2 separate regions of the Homo sapiens genome follow, and region 1 is linked to region 2. A link means that fine-mapping ties the variant in region 2 to the expression of a gene that starts in the linked region. Tissue or cell type: thyroid. Region 2 holds a variant in brackets; the other region holds the start of a gene. All regions are shown on one strand. Distances are between the middles of the regions.

Evidence for each region. PIP is the estimated chance that this variant, and not a neighbour inherited with it, causes the effect.
Region 1: it holds the start of NUB1, and the variant in region 2 is fine-mapped to the expression of NUB1 in thyroid (GTEx, PIP 0.94).

The regions. Positions count from the first base shown.
Region 1 is chr7:151,340,552-151,343,307 of GRCh38, reverse strand. It overlaps NUB1 (negative regulator of ubiquitin like proteins 1), which reads right to left and starts at 1,496. Exons shown (of 15, transcript NM_001243351.2): 1 at 1,462-1,496. RefSeq lists silencers at 1,227-1,406, 1,577-1,776 and an enhancer at 1,374-1,875.
Region 2 is chr7:151,376,235-151,378,990 of GRCh38, reverse strand. NUB1 (negative regulator of ubiquitin like proteins 1) reads right to left here. Exons shown (of 15, transcript NM_001243351.2): 14 at 2,180-2,357; 15 at 542-1,944. The coding sequence ends at 1,766. It also overlaps a transcript of WDR86 not described here. Among named protein-coding and RNA genes, the nearest start is that of WDR86-AS1, 32 kb to the left of the region's middle. The variant C/G (reference allele first, on the strand shown) is at 1,188.

The DNA of each region.
Region 1 (2,756 bases), 36 kb after region 2:
TAATCAGGACAGGGAGGAGAAAAGAGAGGAAGGAATAACACAGCCAATGAGGCTGCTGTGTGCAACCTGGGTGGCCCATGGGAGAATCCTCCATTTTTCAAGCACTGACAAACGGCTTATCACAGCAAAGCATATTAGTACTTAGAGCGTTAGCTTTTCAAACACAAATAACTTTAAAAACTACTTTACATACTACTCATGAATCTTCAGAAATTCTGAATAAAATATCACAGCAACCCTACTGTCTCCCCACTGGGGGACAGTAATTTCACAGGCTGGTTACTGGAGCCAAGCAATTTGAAAGGCTGATGCGGTACTCAGAGATGCCATCCAAGGCCGGGCGCGGTGGCTCACACCTGTAATCCCAGCACTTGGGAGGCCGAGGCCAGTGGATCACCTGAGGTCAGGAGTTCAAGACCAGCCTGGTCAACATGGTGAAACCCCGTCTCTACTAAAAAAATAAACAAATAAAAAATTTTTAAAAAGATGCCATCCAAGCCACCACTTGACAGAAGGACGAAGGAGTGTTACAAACCCAGTGCGTGTCAGACACTCCAGGGAGCAAACAAGAGCTCCAGGGTTACACCGAATAAGATTTAATGTTAAAAAAAAATTAAACCACTGTCTTGAAACTTAAGGAACTTCAGTTATAGACAACAGAGTAAGTGGCGACATATTTTAAGTCAAGTTTAATAAGTCAGTTTTTAATTTTAACTGAAATGAGAACTGAAAAAGTTTCATGCATGCCATACAATGTTTCACATTGTAACTAAGAAAAGACGAAACTCATTAATATCACTCCGTGGTCCAAGCAGAAAGTGAAACGTTATAACGATCCTTTAAAAATTTCACTTTCACTTTTGTAATGAATCGATCATTGCTACATTTAGCCACACCTTTTCAAGTATACATTATATATAGTTGAAACACAACTATATCTAGTCAAGACACATTCATTTTTTCTTAGGAAAATGAAAGATTCTTGATTAAAAATAAAAGGGAAGGAGGTGAGAATGATAGAATCAGGTCGTCAAGGTTCGAGAAAATCAAGTGTCTTGTCATTAAATAGCAAAGAAAATCTGGCTTTGATTGCAAATAAATCCCAAATGGTATACTCGGAGTGTTACGATTCAAGTATAGCATTTGGCTAATTTTTTATAGACATATTTATTCCTTTCTCTCCCCAAACCGATACACTCAATATTTTCTTTTAAATACCCCACACCTCTGCCTAACTCAGGGCAAACCAAAGGGCCCCGAACGGCCAGCGCGTCCCGAAGCCCGGCCCACCGCTCCCGGCCCCGGCCCCGGCCCCGGCCCAGCTCCACGCATGGCTGCTCACCCCCGCCCCGCGGCCGCTCCACCCCTGGCCAGGAGAGGTGCCCAGTCGGACCGGGAACCGGGGCGCCAAGCAGTGCTGCTGAGGCTGGGGTCGAGGACACTCGGCCGCCGTGTCCTCACCTGCGCCACGCCACTCCCGCCGCGACCAGCAGAGTGCCCGGATGCGGCAGCGGCCGCCGTTTGTTTTCATTCCGGGTGAGGCCAGCCCCGCCCCCGCCGCCGCTGTCGCCTTCGCGCCGCCGCCGCCGCCGCCGCTTGGAAAGAGGGTTGTGGGCGGGGCCAAGGCGAAGCCAGCTGTGGGCGGGGATACGGTTGTGTGGGCGTGGTTACCGCGGGGCGGAGCCGCGACGGGGCGGAGCTAAGCGGAGGCGGGGCTGGGCGAGGATGTGGCCGTGTGGGGCGAGGACCTGGGAGTTGGTGTCCAACGCCACCCCAGGCTCAGTCTTCCAGGACTTCCCGCCCGGGCTCAGTTTGCCAGCCATCAAGAGGAAATGGATCCTGGCTTTGTTTCTCCAGAATCCTTGAAAGAGGCTGGGGGAAGGGTCGGGACCGTCCCAACCCGCATCTCATTCCTCAGCCTAGGCTGGACCCCTTCCCTAAACCAGCGGCTTTTCACCCCGCCCTCCACAAGCCCACCAGGGGCTTCCCTGGGGTGAAATTAGGCTGCTTCCCGGGAATTTCCTCCCCCATGCTGTCCACGGCCACTAGGGACCACAAGGCCTAGGGAGCTCTGCCTACTTCCAAGGTCCTATTCCCAAGGCTGTGCTCAACAGTGACGCTTCTATTTTATTATCAGTTATTGCTGTTAATCTCTTACTGTGCCTAATAAATTAAACTTTATCGTAGGTATGTACGTATGTATAGGAAAAATGAAGTGTGTGTATATATATAGTATATATATATGTGTGTGTATGTAAAATGGGGTGCAGTACTATCCGAGGTTTCAGGCATCCACTGTGGGTCTTGGGACACACCACCTGTGTGTGGACGAGAGGGGACTCCTGTAACCTTGCAGTGACCAATCCGTTTTTCGTTCCCTGTTGCTGCTTTCTTTAGCCCTTTTCTACCTATAAAGCCCACCTCCTCTGCCCAGCTCGTTGGAGCACCGTTTCTAAATTTTCAGAGAAGATGCCATCCTGATTCATGAATCAATAAAAACCAATAGATCTTTAATCTAAATTTGTGGTAATTTTGACTTCTGACAAAGGGATATTAATAACTGTATAACCGCACCAGACCAATCTGATTCGCCTTTTATATACCCAAGTTGTGAGTTGTTTTTCAGTTGCATGGACTCCCAGATGGAAGGTTTCGCACGTAACCTGAGGATGCCCAGGTGAACCAAGCATGCAACCAGGGGCGGAACCTGAGTGCTCAGATCAAAGCAGGGACTGAATTAAGAAATGGGCACTGCA
Region 2 (2,756 bases):
CCCAAGTCTCCATGCCTGGAGGGCAGCCCATTCTGGACATAGCGCATGCCCAGAACTGCCTCCACAGCCGGCTTCCTCTGCGGCTCTCTCTTCACAAGACACGGAAGAGTTTTGGGGCCTGCTGGTGTGGCATTGCTTCTATGATGGCTAAAAACAGCTGGGAAGCTAGAAGACACGCCTGAACCAAGCGCAGGACAGCGATTTGTTAGCCAAAAGCTTAAATTCAGGCCCCAAATCCAAGTGTGGCATTGTGTCAAATGAGGCTGAGACTCCGCGTCACCTCAGCTCACCAGGCACTTCTGAGGCAAACCCTGACAGGTACATTTCAGTCCCCTGCCCAGGATGCACCCCAGCCCCGCTTGGCGTGCGGCATCTTTCACAGCAGATGCCCTCTGCTTCTGAGATCATCCTTCCATCATCTCCTCACAAAACTCAGTGGAAACAGACATCCTGCAATCAAAATGAAGAGCTAGTCACCCAGACACTTTCAACACCTACAGCTGGGGAGGCTGAGTAAATTAATGCAAAATTAGGGTGACAATTTTTGAATATATTTCCCACCTTTTATTTCCATCGGTATCATCCGTTTAAAAAGAATGACAAGAAGATTCCCATCAGTCCAAACTGGACCACCCACACTTTGAAAAAGTTGGAGCATTTCAGCCGGCTCCGCATGATCCATCCTGTCTTCAGTCAGTGCCTTCTGGAAGGGAGGGAAAGTCTTGGATGCACCTGGCACTCAATCCACTCGGCACCTGGCTGCTGCTGTGGTCCTGGGGCTGGAAGGAACTCCCACTGGGCACACATCTACAGAGGAGTGCGTGGCGCAGTGAGGACGGTTACTGCTGGAGCCGACACACAGCGAACTACATACTTTTAGAAAGAGCCTCTGTCACATGGCTAGAACAACAACAACAACAAAGAAAACCCACAAAAAACCTGGAGAAAATATATCTAAATCTCTGATAGGTCTCTTAGCTAGCAGTGAGTTCAGTATGACAGCACAGAGTCTAAAAATATTAATTAAAAATAAATTGCTTTGGTTAGCATTTAAACCTTTCCCATTCAATAGAAGATTTCTGTAATGAGGAATGCTGAATATATATAAAGCCTGACACTCAATCTTGAATTTCGGGGGCGTATTTTACTGAACTAAGAGCATAAAACACTGGCGTCCCAGGCTGAAG[C/G]CATTTGCTGCGACCTGGTGTGGCCCCCAAGGCCAGCGCCTCATCGTTATGCCCCACAGCACTTGGAAGGAAGACTTAAAGGACGATTTGAGGGGCGGGGAAAGGGTGGCACAGGAACCCATGTGGCACCCTGGCAGAGATGGCAGCGTGGGAAGCAGGAAGGTCAGGGCAGTGGGTGCAGGAGGCAGGCAAGCTGGGCAGATGGAGCCACAGCTGGAGAGGAAGCGGTCGGGACACCCTTCCCAGGACCCTGCCCTGGACACCTTCCCCAGGACCCCTGTTCTACAGGACCCCTGTTCCTTCCTGTTTCGGGGTAAAACACCAAGCTGGGGAAGGGGTTAGGGACGCAGACCTGGGAGGCAGATGGAACGGCCTGCGCCAGGCCAGAGGAAGCTTCTTCCCCGAGACCACGCATGAAGGCCCTGGGACCCCTCCTGGACTTGTCCCCTGCCCACCCCCTCCTACACCCAAAGAGGACTTGTAATTCAGATAAAAAGTAAGAACAGAAAGAGCTGCATTAGCCTTTTCATAATGATAGCATTTATAAGCAGAAAATTAGCGCTATTTCTGTTCATTATTTAGTTTTTCTTTGTTGCTGACTTCCTATTTTCTACATAGGATAGGTACTCTGCAATAATAATTTCTTCATCTTCCAGAGTTGAGTCAAGATAGTCTTCCTCATGCTCTGGAATGTCTTCCAGTATCTCATTGACGGCCTCTGTCTCCATGTCTTCGTCTGTTGAGGCACTAGAGGTTCCTACAATAAAATACCGCAGGAGTAAGTGAATTATGTGAGGATTGTCCTGGGGACACTGCACGACCACAGTCAACCTCAGACTGTGCCTCTTGCTGGCCACACTGTCCAGGTGGCCGGCCCGGTGACGTCAGGGGACGCCCCCTCAGTCTCCACATCTGCCGTGGCTTAGGGCCACATCTGTTGGCTTCTGAAGACACTTTGCTCTCAATGCGGCCCTCAAAGACCTCAGACCTACCTGCGGAGTCAGAAGGGGACGTGGCTGGCGGGGACAAAGAGTCTTCTGGCGACAGCGGCAGCTCGGGAGGCAGGCTTCCTCCGTTGTGAGCAAGGGTCTGGGCGGCCAGCTGGACGTTGCCTCTGAACACTCTCAGCGCAGCTTCGGCCACGAGTGCATCAAAACCCATGTACACCAACTAGGGGAGAGCGCAGGGGTCACAGCATCAGCCCCTGGCGCCTCTTCTGCCACCCCCGTCAGCCATACGAGTGGACAGCCGACTCTCATGTTTAAGAGCTCCCGGCGTGTGCACCATGGCCCTTTGTGCACAAGTCATGCTTCTGTGCAATGTGAGCGTAGAGCAACCTGGAAGGGGGCTTGGAAGACTCAAGTCGGGTGCGTCAGGGAGCAGCCATCTCAGGACAGGCAGTGACCTCGGGCTGAGAGCAGGGCGCCACACCAGCCTCACCACGAGCACCGCGAGGTCAGTGGCCACAGCATACAGGCGTGCTAACGCGTGTAGGGGCACAAATGTGGACAGAGCCGTCACTTGGGATACAAAGCTGGATGGGTTTCCCAGGTCACAGTGCCATCCTTT